Regions from separate parts of the Homo sapiens genome. Here regions 1 and 3 are each reported to be linked to region 2. The links are microRNA targets in miRTarBase. Many come from high-throughput screens and were not tested one by one. Region 2 holds a microRNA gene; each other region holds the end of a gene's coding sequence.
What was found. Region 2 holds the annotated microRNA hsa-miR-195-3p (CCAAUAUUGGCUGUGCUGCUCC, at 1,401-1,422, shown strand). A microRNA usually pairs through its seed, bases 2 to 8, with sites in the 3' UTR of a target mRNA and lowers its output. Matches are read on the target gene's strand: a 7mer-m8 pairs with bases 2 to 8, a 7mer-A1 pairs with bases 2 to 7 and ends in A, and an 8mer does both.

Region 1 (4,154 bases), not on the chromosome of region 2:
GGGCTTTTGAATGGGTGTTCCATGCCCAGTGAGAAAGGACCCATTAAGTGGGTTATCACTGATGCGGAGAAGAATGAGTATGAAAAAGACTCTCCAAGATTGACCAAAACCAACCCAATACTATATTACATGCTTCAAAAAGGAGGCAATTCTGTTACCAGTCGAGAAACACAAGACAAGGACATTTGGAGGGAGGCTTCATCTGCTGAAAGTGTCTCACAGGTCACAGCCAAAGAAGAGTTACTTCCTACTGCAGAAACGAAAGCTTCTTTCTTTAATTTAAGAAGCCCTTACAATAGCCATATGGGAAATAATGCTTCTCGCCCACACAGCGCAAATGGAGAAGTTTATGGACTTCTGGGAAGCGTGCTAACGATAAAGAAAGAATCAGAATAAAATGTACCTGCCATCCAGTTTTGGATCTTTTTAAAACTAATGAGTATGAACTTGAGATCTGTATAAATAAGAGCATGATTTGAAAAAAAGCATGGTATAATTGAAACTTTTTTCATTTTGAAAAGTATTGGTTACTGGTGATGTTGAAATATGCATACTAATTTTTGCTTAACATTAGATGTCATGAGGAAACTACTGAACTAGCAATTGGTTGTTTAACACTTCTGTATGCATCAGATAACAACTGTGAGTAGCCTATGAATGAAATTCTTTTATAAATATTAGGCATAAATTAAAATGTAAAACTCCATTCATAGTGGATTAATGCATTTTGCTGCCTTTATTAGGGTACTTTATTTTGCTTTTCAGAAGTCAGCCTACATAACACATTTTTAAAGTCTAAACTGTTAAACAACTCTTTAAAGGATAATTATCCAATAAAAAAAAACCTAGTGCTGATTCACAGCTTATTATCCAATTCAAAAATAAATTAGAAAAATATATGCTTACATTTTTCACTTTTGCTAAAAAGAAAAAAAAAAGGTGTTTATTTTTAACTCTTGGAAGAGGTTTTGTGGTTCCCAATGTGTCTGTCCCACCCTGATCCTTTTCAATATATATTTCTTTAAACCTTGTGCTACTTAGTAAAAATTGATTACAATTGAGGGAAGTTTGATAGATCCTTTAAAAAAAAGGCAGATTTCCATTTTTTGTATTTTAACTACTTTACTAAATTAATACTCCTCCTTTTACAGAATTAGAAAAGTTAACATTTATCTTTAGGTGGTTTCCTGAAAAGTTGAATATTTAAGAAATTGTTTTTAACAGAAGCAAAATGGCTTTTCTTTGGACAGTTTTCACCATCTCTTGTAAAAGTTAATTCTCACCATTCCTGTGGTACCTGCGAGTGTTATGACCAGGATTCCTTAAACCTGAACTCAGACCACTTGCATTAGAACCATCTGGAGCACTTGTTTTAAAATGCAGATTCATAGGCAGCATCTCAGATCTACAGAACAAGAATCTCTGCTAAGTGGACCTGGAATCTTCCATCTGCATCTTAACATGCTCTCTAGGTGTTTCTTGTGTTTGAGAACCATGACTTATGACTTTCCTCAGAACATGAGACTGTAAAACAAAAACAAAAAACTATGTGATGCCTCTATTTTCCCCAATACAGTCACACATCAGCTCAAAATTTGCAATATTGTAGTTCATATATTACCGTTATGTCTTTGGAAATCGGGTTCAGAACACTTTTTATGACAAAAATTGGGTGGAGGGGATAACTTTCATATCTGGCTCAACATCTCAGGAAAATCTGTGATTATTTGTGTGTTCTAATGAGTAACATCTACTTAGTTAGCCTTAGGGATGGAAAAACAGGGCCACTTACCAAACTCAGGTGATTCCAGGATGGTTTGGAAACTTCTCCTGAATGCATCCTTAACCTTTATTAAAACCATTGTCCTAAGAACAATGCCAACAAAGCTTACAACATTTAGTTTAAACCCAAGAAGGGCACTAAACTCAGATTGACTAAATAAAAAGTACAAAGGGCACATATACGTGACAGAATTGTACACAATCACTCCATTGGATCTTTTACTTTAAAGTAGTGATGAAAAGTACATGTTGATACTGTCTTAGAAGAAATTAATATATTAGTGAAGCCACATGGGGTTTCAGTTGCGAAACAGGTCTGTTTTTATGTTCAGTTTGTACAATCCACAATTCATTCACCAGATATTTTGTTCTTAATTGTGAACCAGGTTAGCAAATGACCTATCAAAAATTATTCTATAATCACTACTAGTTAGGATATTGATTTAAAATTGTTCTACTTGAAGTGGTTTCTAAGATTTTTATATTAAAAATAGGTGTGATTTCCTAATATGATCTAAAACCCTAAATGGTTATTTTTCCTCAGAATGATTTGTAAATAGCTACTGGAAATATTATACAGTAATAGGAGTGGGTATTATGCAACATCATGGAGAAGTGAAGGCATAGGCTTATTCTGACATAAAATTCCACTGGCCAGTTGAATATATTCTATTCCATGTCCATACTATGACAATCTTATTGTCAACACTATATAAATAAGCTTTTAAACAAGTCATTTTTCTTGATCGTTGTGGAAGGTTTGGAGCCTTAGAGGTATGTCAGAAAAAATATGTTGGTATTCTCCCTTGGGTAGGGGGAAATGACCTTTTTACAAGAGAGTGAAATTTAGGTCAGGGAAAAGACCAAGGGCCAGCATTGCTACTTTTGTGTGTGTGTGTGTGGGTTTTGTTTTGTTTTTTTGGTTGGCTGGTTGTTTTCGTTGTTGTTAACAAAGGAATGAGAATATGTAATACTTAAATAAACATGACCACGAAGAATGCTGTTCTGATTTACTAGAGAATGTTCCCAATTTGAATTTAGGGTGATTTTAAAGAACAGTGAGAAAGGGCATACATCCACAGATTCACTTTGTTTATGCATATGTAGATACAAGGATGCACATATACACATTTTCAAGGACTATTTTAGATATCTAGACAATTTCTTCTAATAAAGTCATTTGTGAAAGGGTACTACAGCTTATTGACATCAGTAAGGTAGCATTCATTACCTGTTTATTCTCTGCTGCATCTTACAGAAGAGTAAACTGGTGAGAGTATATATTTTATATATATATATATATATATATATATAATATGTATATATATATATATTGACTTGTTACATGAAGATGTTAAAATCGGTTTTTAAAGGTGATGTAAATAGTGATTTCCTTAATGAAAAATACATATTTTGTATTGTTCTAATGCAACAGAAAAGCCTTTTAATCTCTTTGGTTCCTGTATATTCCATGTATAAGTGTAAATATAATCAGACAGGTTTAAAAGTTGTGCATGTATGTATACAGTTGCAAGTCTGGACAAATGTATAGAATAAACCTTTTATTTAAGTTGTGATTACCTGCTGCATGAAAAGTGCATGGGGGACCCTGTGCATCTGTGCATTTGGCAAAATGTCTTAACAAATCAGATCAGATGTTCATCCTAACATGACAGTATTCCATTTCTGGACATGACGTCTGTGGTTTAAGCTTTGTGAAAGAATGTGCTTTGATTCGAAGGGTCTTAAAGAATTTTTTTAATCGTCAACCACTTTTAAACATAAAGAATTCACACAACTACTTTCATGAATTTTTTAATCCCATTGCAAACATTATTCCAAGAGTATCCCAGTATTAGCAATACTGGAATATAGGCACATTACCATTCATAGTAAGAATTCTGGTGTTTACACAACCAAATTTGATGCGATCTGCTCAGTAATATAATTTGCCATTTTTATTAGAAATTTAATTTCTTCATGTGATGTCATGAAACTGTACATACTGCAGTGTGAATTTTTTTGTTTTGTTTTTTAATCTTTTAGTGTTTACTTCCTGCAGTGAATTTGAATAAATGAGAAAAAATGCATTGTCTCTGGTTTGAAATGACTGTTATTTTGTGGGCTTTCTCTGGTTTTTAGGTTTTCCATAAACGTAAAACACATTGCTATGAATATAACAGTGATCTTCAAGGATGTTTTGCCCTTCTTAGAAAAATAAAGGGGACAAAAAAGAAGGTGGCTGGCAAGTTAGTGCACTAGAAACAGGGTAATTAAGGCATAACTCAAAGTGACAATCAGCCTATGGCCTTTCTCCCATGATTCAGTGTGTAACTAGTTGATCACTGTAAATTTTTAAACTAGAAAATAGT
Region 2 (4,310 bases):
ATTTGATGGAGGGCAGATAGGGGTGTCCGGGAGGGGTCTGGCATCTTCGGGGGCCTAAAAAGACTGCTTACATACACCACCTTGGATCTTTCAGATTGCTAAGAGTTTTGGGGGGTGTGTCGGAAGAGGGGGTGGTAAAAGATGCGATGGGATATAGGAAGATAACTTCTGGATTTTAGGGGGTCATATTTTGATTTGCAAAAGGAGTTTTGGCCCTTGGATTTTGCTTTCTGAGGGGTGTTTTTAAAAAATCAAGTCCTGGACAGGAGAAAAGGGCTGAGGGAAGGCCTGGAGTTGGGGGTGGGGAGAGGCATGTTTGTCTCAGCTTAAACGTGGCTCTCTGGGGTGGGCCCGCCTGCCCTGGCCTGGTGGATGGGCTGATGGAGGTTGCTGTGGGGGCCGGCTCGGGTCCTCAGGGGCCCTGGGGAGTGGGAACAGCACTGGGGGTTGAATACCTGGCCCCCCAGGTCCAGATGGCCCTCTTCCTGGGCTCTGCTGCTCCCCTTCCCCCTGGTCTCCATTTCCTGCCTTTGGCCTCCATCTTGTGGCAGGCCCAGGGCCCAGGGCGACTTCCGGCCCCCCTCTCCCAACCATGTTCCGGCCCCACCACCTCTGGACTGCCAACTCCCAACCCTGCTGGCCTTGGCCCTCTGTCTCTCCTTGCTTTTCTCTTGGGTTCTGACCCAGGGAGAGGAAGGACGGACACAGGAAGCCTTGGGTCCCTGCCCTTGCTGAGACAGGAGGCAGTGTGTTGGCCCCTCCAGTCATTCCCTATTTCTTCTGCCTCTGACCCCACCCTAGGGATCCCCTGAGCTGAGTTCCTACAGAGGGAAGATGGTCCAATCTTACTACACTGTGAGCTCATCCCCATGGTCCGTCGCCTTCCAGTTGCCTGCTCAGCCCGTCCCTGGTTCCTCCCAAACGTTTTTGGGGGCCATGTTTGCCTTTTAAGGCTTCTCTATCCCCCCGCTCCTGGAGGTGGTGCTGGGGTCTTCCCAGCACTGCTATGTGCTCTCTTCCTTTCAACCCACCCCGGTCCTGCTCCCGCCCCAGCAGCACACTGTGGTTTGTACGGCACTGTGGCCACGTCCAAACCACACTGTGGTGTTAGAGCGAGGGTGGGGGAGGCACCGCCGAGGCTTGGCCCTGGGAGGCCATCCTGGAGAAGTGACACAAAAAACATCTGGGGCCTTGTGACAAACTTCTTGCCAGGTGGGCAAGGAGAGGGTGGGGTATGTAAGCACCCCTCTAAAATCTCCAGGGCAGTTTCAAGAATACTGATGGCCAGAGACCCTGGGAGTAAGTTCTGCCTCAAGAGAACAAAGTGGAGTCTTTGTTGCCCACACCCAGCTTCCCTGGCTCTAGCAGCACAGAAATATTGGCACAGGGAAGCGAGTCTGCCAATATTGGCTGTGCTGCTCCAGGCAGGGTGGTGAAAACTACCGAGGAGGGGCTGAGCCCCCATGGGCCGAGGAGAGAAGAGGGAACAGGCCTCTCCTGCTAATAATGTTAAGCAGACAGCACGAAGCTGAGAGGGAAATCTTTATTGTTTTCTGTATAAAAATGTCCATCAGATGAAGGTCAAAGGGGTTGGGGGCAGATGCTTATGCGGGAATAGCGAGGTGGCAGCCCCAGCAGCCTTTCAGCCCTCTCTCGTGCAGGCCTTGCTCGGAGTCCCAGGAGATCCACAGGTCCGGCATGAACAGTGAGAGGTCAGAGGTGGAAGGCTCAGCAGGAGAGGAGAGGAGGATCAGCAGAGGTCATGAGAAGGCCAGAATCCAGGGTCAGGCTGTCTGGAACAGGAAGTAAAATGGGCCGAGATGGAGCGAGCCCCCAGTGTGCTTCCAAGGCCACTCCCACCTCCCTGAAACACCCTGCTACGTACTGATCCAATGCCCTGCGCTGTGTATGAGAGCACCTTCTCTTCTGAAACCCCTATACAAGGGAGGGGCCCCTGCGGAGACCGTGCCCTGCCATCCAGGTGAGCCCTTTCTCCCCAACCCCGTCAGCTGTGTGGGAGGAGGAGGACTCCTACCCTGGTCGAAGTTGAGTTTCTTAGCTGGAGGAGTTTCTCCTAGCCCTTCAATATCCACCACGTCACTGTTGGCATCGGAGTCGTTCAGAGCACTGAGTGTCACATCTGGGAAGGGGGCATAAGCTAGGTTCTAGGTTCCCCTGACAGCCTCTCCCCCAGCCCCAAGCTTCCCAAAGCTTTGTGCCTCCTCTCCCCTCCCCTCTGCCCCTCTCTGGGAACCTCCACAGGGACAGGAAGAGAGACTGACCCTTCTTTGACCCAGGCCCAATTCTCTCACTAAACCTCAGATGGGACCTTTAACCCCTAGGCAGCAACTCCACAGCCCTCACCAGCCTTCTGTTTCTTTATGGGGGGACCCCCGGCCTCAGGGACACTGGAGCTGCTGGGAGGAGGGGCAGCTGGAGGAGGTGACAAGACACCAGATGCCACCTTCTTGGGCCCTTTCTTGGGTGACTCAGCTGGAAGGGGGATGCCAGAATCTTCATATACCTTGCGTTTCACAGTGGCCTTTATCTGGGCCCTGAAGAAAAGAGAGAAGAGGTTAGGAAAGGAGTCATCAGAGAGACTAACAGAAGAGGGGACGGGAGGGGAAGGGGTTCTGGGAGTCCCTTCATAAGAATCCAGGTCGGGGCCCCAACCCATTGGTAGGGTTCTCACTTTCTCGAAGTTTTACACTCACTCAGGATGGATGGAGTGTGGAGAGTGGAGTCCCTGAACTGAGTAGTGGGAAAGGCCCATCTCCTAATTCTCTTCTGGGAGAGACATCAGGTAGAGCTTGGTGATTTACAGGTGGATTGAGATTTACTGATCAACTAGTTCAGGGTCACCATATCCCTGGAAACACTGCAGTGGGGTCCTCAAACATTTATATAAATAACCAGGGGACTTCCATCATCAAATACAATAACAGCATCTCAGGCAACCTAAATTCACATTCTTGGAAGGATTACCACAGCATTTTAGGAACTTCTGACCAACTGTGACAATTCTATTCTTTCAGTCCTCAAGGGGATTCTAAAAAACTAGTGACAAAGTAGGGAAGCAGCTGAGCTGGAAAGGAGTTCTGAGGACGATGGAACCTTGGGTAAGGAGGAAGAAGGCTGCCCACCCGCCCTTTTCTGGCAGCCACCCTCCCTCACACTGTCCGTTCCTTGATGACACAGCTGATGTGATTAAGATCGTCCCCAAATCGCTTCACAGCAGCCCTCAGCATCTCTATTTCCGTCTCCGTCCACTTCGCACTGTCAGAAGGGGAGAGGGGGGATAGCAAAAATGGGAGGGGGGGTGTGGAGCCCGCCCACAGGCTATGCATCCCACAGCCAACCAGCCGCCTCCTTCCGATTTCTGGGACCCCTTCCACGGATGCATAAAGAGGTCCTCCGTAAGGGGAGGCGGAAAGCTCTTGAGGCCCTGCGGGAACCGGGAGGACCCCAATCACAAGAAATCACAACCACCTCCACCTTAGACACCCCTTTCCACCATCAACGTTAAACGGCTGCTGTACACAGCACACTGAAACCAACTCGCCAGGAAGGGCTTTTCAAAACAGACCCACCAACACAGCCTGCAGCCGTCTGGGGGAATTCCATGAACTGGGGTGGTTGGGAGTGGCGGTGGTTTGTGGTCGACCCGTTCGCAGCAGGGAGAACTGTGAAACAGGAGTCTGGGCTATGGGCCTGTCTGTATTTTTATCTGTCATTCATTCCCTCACCCAACGATCATTTATTAACACCGACTCTGTGCTGTGCCACGCACAAAGGGAAACTAATGTCTGTCCCTGTGCTAGAGAGGGTCCGTGTCTGTGACCGAGTCCAAGCGCCCGCTCTCAGCGTCCACGTCCCAGTCCGGGCTCACGTACCCCGCAGGAGAAGAGTCGGCCACGGGATGCAGCTGCATCGTCAGCTCCCCGAGCTTCGTGAAGGCGGCGCCGGCCGCCGAGAAGATCTCTCCGACCTGGGGGCGGGGCAGCGTCACGGGGGGCCGGCGCCCGCCCTCCCCGTCCCGCCCGGAGCCCCTAGCCCCACCCCAGGCTCGGCTCCCGCCCGCCCCCCGCCCGGGGCGGAAGAGCCGCGAGCCAAGTGGGGGGCCCGCCCTCCCGTGGCCGCCAGGGAGCGCTGTCCGCGAGGGAGGTCGAACCTTTGTGGACGCTGACGTCATGGCCCCGCGCGCCTCCTCACGGAGACGCCGCCGCCGCCGCTACACGCGAGCCGGGACCACGGAGAGCAGGGAGACTGAGCGGCTCGGGCCCCCGCGCAGGAAGTCCCGCCCTCCCCGC
Region 3 (4,154 bases), not on the chromosome of region 2:
ATATATGCCTTCTGAGAGAGACACTGACTTGTCAGTTGGGTTGGGGTGGTAATCAGTGATGATCTCTGAGTCCTGTGTGGCAACCTTTCCACTTGCTGGACTACTCAGCATACTAGCCGTCTATCTAGGCCTTACCCAAACTCTATGCCCACGGGCAGAGTGATTTCCTCACAAACAATAAAAATAACTGGCTTCTCTGCAGGAATCCAGAGTTTCTGTAAGGACTTGGTGGAGGTGGCTGACATTTTGGAGAAGACTACAGAGTGCATTTCTGAAGAATCGGAGCCTGAGGACCAAAAGCTCACTCTGGAGAAGGTCTTCCGAGGGTTGTTGCTTTTAGAAGCAAAGCTGAAAAGTGTGTTTGCCAAGCATGGCCTGGAGAAACTGACACCCATTGGTGACAAATATGACCCCCATGAGCATGAACTCATCTGTCATGTGCCAGCTGGTGTTGGGGTGCAGCCTGGCACCGTGGCATTAGTAAGACAAGATGGCTACAAACTTCATGGCCGCACCATTAGGCTTGCCCGAGTGGAAGTGGCAGTGGAGTCTCAGAGAAGACTGTGAAGAGGCCATCAGGAACTGGATGTTCTCCCAGAGCGCAGTCACCTATGTTTCTTTTATTTATTAAACTAGGTTTGTATTGTACATGAGGTACTTCATGTGATATGTTTTGGATTTAGTCATATTGGCTTTATTTCTAAGATATTCTATTGATTTAATGTGACCTGTTTGGTCTCATCAGAAGTCTTACCATTGGGCATTTGAACAGTGTGACAGGTGTTCCAATGGCCTTTATCAAAACATGTTTAGGAAAATTGGTACTGTGATAAATTTGAATCCAAAATCCTTTTAACTATGGGTTTTCAACTACATGTTTCTTCCTAGCGGTCTCTATAACAGGAATTGTGTAGTATCTTGTATTTTGTGGAAAAAGGAGATGGTAGGGATTGGTTCAACATTTGGGTACTTAGAGGATAAAGCTTCGTGGTCGTATAAATTTAGATCATTTGGATTGATTTTTATACACATAGATTTTCAGGACTTTACCTTTTGTTTTGTTTTTTTCCTTTTAGCCATCTTTTGTTCTTGTAATCCCAACTAGATAGGCTTTATGCTCACATCATTGTCCCATACCCACCCCTTTCTCATCCCCATTTGCAGGGGCTAAAGGTCTAGATGAGACTTGGAAGGCAAGGAGCATCGAAATTTGAGATACCCAGGACCCTTTCAAGCAAGAATGGCCAAAAAGCCTTGTGCTGTCTTTGCTCTTCAAATTATTTTCAGCCTCCTTGTCATATAATCATTTCAGGCAAACTGAGGCAACACTAACAGCTAATGACCCAGATGGCTCTATTTGGGTAATTTACCTACAACTTATTCCACCAGCCTTTACTCCTCTGCCCTTTTGTCAATTTTACCTTATAATCCTTTATTAAATGATGGGAGGTGGTGATCAGGACAAAAGTGTTAGGTTCCCATGATTTCTCATTTCATTTATTAATAGTTAATGCTGAATTTTTTTTTAAGTTTCCTCTGGCTCTATTTATGTTACTTTTTGCGATAAGAACACTTAACATAAGTATTCTCTCCTCTTGGCAATTTTTTTTTTTTTTCCTGTGTTGCCCAGGCTGACCTCCAACTCCTGGGCCCAAGCAATCCTGCCTCAGCCTGCCAAGTAGCTAGGACTACAGGCGTTCACCACTGCGCCCGCAAAGTTTTTTTGTTGTTTTTTTTTTTAAGTTGGTACTCACAAATCACTACCTCTGTTATATTGACAAGCTCTATTTCCTATTCTTTGTATCTGTTAAGTCACATCTGTGTAAACATTGAGCTCACCTTTTATATATTAACCTCTAGAATTAATGGGCCTATGTGGTTTTTTTTCAGTCTTATAGCTGGTGTTCTGTAAAAGATTTGTCCAATAAACGACTTAATGAATGATACATCAGTCAGATTTTAGGAAGGCAGTCAATTATGGATATTTTAATGTTGGAAGAGGCCTTAATGATCAAATCTCACCCTTTCTGCTTCTGAAGTATGAAAATCTAGTCTTTTTAGGACTGGACACAAGGAAAATAATCTCTAAACTATTGACTAAATTCCAGTGAGAGTATGAATGAAGAACAACTAGATATTAATGTCAATCATTTAAGATTAATGGGCATGCAATTAAGTCTCCATTTAAGATTAATGGGCATGCAATGAAGTCTCCAGCAGACAATCAGATGTTGTTGGATGTCTAGATTATATAGGTTTAGGTTGAAGTTATAAAATAAAATAAAATTCATTTTCCACTGGAACTCTATGACATTCAGTGGAGTGGTGGAAAGTTAACCTCTTATACATTATAGATAATTCTAAGACAGCACACAAACTTATCAATAAAGCCATCTCCTTGTGGGCCTTACCATCTTCATCAGATTTAGACCCTTAAAAAACAAGTAAATATGCACTTTTAAAATGCAATCAAAAGACTGGTGGTTAAGCTTGTAAAACCAGAACATCTTTTGGCATTCCACTAAGTATATATTGTAAATTTAATGAACAATCAAGGTTCACAATAGGAAGTTGTCTTTTTTTGCCTTCCATTCTGTGAGATTTGACAGATGGTGACAATAAGAAAATGAGCTGATTGTAATTACTCTCTGTGTGTTTTTTTATTGCTAGCTATCATTACCAGTTAGAATTAACATTAATTACAATTAACAATAATTTTAGGTATGGAATGTTATGATTACCTAAAGAGATGTCTCTACCTAATGAGCTCAAGTGATCCTCCCACCTCAGCCTACCAAGTAGCCAGGACCACAGGCAAGTGCACCACCATGACTGGCTAGTTTTGTTTTTTGGTTTTTGGTTTTTGGTTTTTGGTTTTTTTTTTTTGGTTGGTTGGTTGTTTTTTACAGGCGGGGTCTCACTATATTGTCCAGGCTAGAAGAATTTTCTAATGGTCTATTACACCTCCCGTTTTGGCAAGTAAATTCAGAATAATTTTAGGTTCTTTTGTTATTCAGTAGTTTTGCAGACTTAAAAGTGTAAATTTAGAATTAGAAGATGAAGCTATAGTAGTAAGAATCTCAAGCTGAAGGGCTTTGGGGAGCCAAAGCAGCATATTAGAGCATAGGCTTGAACTTAAATCTCAGCTCAGTCACCTGCAGGACTTTAGGCACCAGTGATTTCACCCTTCTGAGCCTGTTTCTTTATTCGTAAAATGATTATAATAATTCTTTCACAGCGTTGTGAGGATTAAGTGAAATGTGTTAAATGCCTACTACAGTAGGTGCTCAGATATTTATTTTTATTTTTTTATTATGCACATTGTTTTTCCTGCCTTTTTATGGCTGTCTAAAGTCTAGGGAAAAGGGAAGACTGGTTAATGATGAGTAGAAAAAACTTGTAAGCTAATCATTCACTGACTTATTTTCCTTCCATTTTCTGGTTTTTAAAATTAGCCACACCACAGGAAACCCACATTTTTAGATGGAAAGAGCAAGAAAATTGTGTCAGTGCTCTTAGTTATTTTCATCTTAATGGTATAGTGAAAAGACATTGACTTGAGATGATACTAAGGAAGCTTTGGCTCACTCTCACTTGAAGAGGGGATCTTGGTGTTGTAGTACTTGGACTGTACAAATGTTTTACTGACTTTTCTTACTGCTGTAAAGGAATCAGGCAGTTGGGTATTGATATGTTATTTGGTGCTCTCATTCATGGCAAAGGATTTGATAAATAAAAGTTCTTTAAACACTAAAGCAAAATCAAATGAGCAAAACTAAGGATGAAATGTAATATTCATCAGAACAAGGATCACTGAGAAAAAATATTCAGAAACAACTTTAATAAAACCTGAATTGAAATAACTGCAGCTCTGGTGTTTAGAGTCTTTGTCTGCCTATTCGTATTGTATATGGAACATTATGGTCACTTCATGACTGCTGACCTGCCTTGTTGATGCTCTGGAGAGGTACCTTGAGATCTCATAGCAGCATAGCCAAGTGGATGCACTGTGGGCTTTCCCCACCCTGCCTCCGTGTTGAAGTCTTGTCTGTTTTATTCCTCCTTGACTTGCCTCTTTCTGATTGCTACATATTTCTTAGATCTGGATTCCTATTTCTGCCTTTTTTTTTTTTTTTTTTTTTTGAGATGGAGTT

Region 1: the mRNA of NRIP1 is a reported target of hsa-miR-195-3p. Seed matches in the 3' UTR shown: 7mer-m8 at 1,600-1,606, 7mer-A1 at 2,218-2,224 and 7mer-A1 at 3,113-3,119.
Region 3: miRTarBase lists GRPEL2 as a target of hsa-miR-195-3p. Seed matches in the 3' UTR shown: 7mer-A1 at 1,772-1,778.

What each region holds. Positions count from the first base shown.
Region 1 is chr21:14,960,958-14,965,111 of GRCh38, reverse strand. NRIP1 (nuclear receptor interacting protein 1) reads left to right here. Exons shown (of 4, transcript NM_003489.4): 4 at 1-3,877. The coding sequence ends at 396. Among named protein-coding and RNA genes, the nearest start is that of ASMER1, 44 kb to the right of the region's middle.
Region 2 is chr17:7,014,740-7,019,049 of GRCh38, reverse strand. It overlaps MIR195 (microRNA 195), which reads left to right and starts at 1,349; the gene lies at 1,349-1,435. BACC1 (BPTF associated chromatin complex component 1) reads right to left here and starts at 4,268. Exons shown (of 6, transcript NM_174893.4): 1 at 4,172-4,268; 2 at 3,894-3,988; 3 at 3,175-3,276; 4 at 2,365-2,555; 5 at 2,036-2,140; 6 at 1,530-1,789. The coding sequence starts at 4,192. The coding sequence ends at 1,785. RNASEK-C17orf49 (RNASEK-C17orf49 readthrough) reads right to left here. Exons shown (of 8, transcript NR_037717.1): 3 at 4,172-4,310; 4 at 3,894-3,988; 5 at 3,175-3,276; 6 at 2,365-2,555; 7 at 2,036-2,140; 8 at 1,526-1,789. It overlaps MIR497HG (mir-497-195 cluster host gene), which reads left to right. Exons shown (of 3, transcript NR_038310.1): 2 at 1,662-1,981; 3 at 3,036-3,232. It also overlaps MIR497. RefSeq lists enhancers at 322-491, 1,843-3,042, 3,455-3,955, 4,306-4,310 and a silencer at 3,886-4,310.
Region 3 is chr5:149,350,716-149,354,869 of GRCh38, forward strand. GRPEL2 (GrpE like 2, mitochondrial) reads left to right here. Exons shown (of 4, transcript NM_152407.4): 4 at 203-3,868. The coding sequence ends at 567. The region is part of intron 1 of GRPEL2-AS1 (GRPEL2 antisense RNA 1); the gene reads right to left. Among named protein-coding and RNA genes, the nearest start is that of GRPEL2-AS1, 4.8 kb to the right of the region's middle.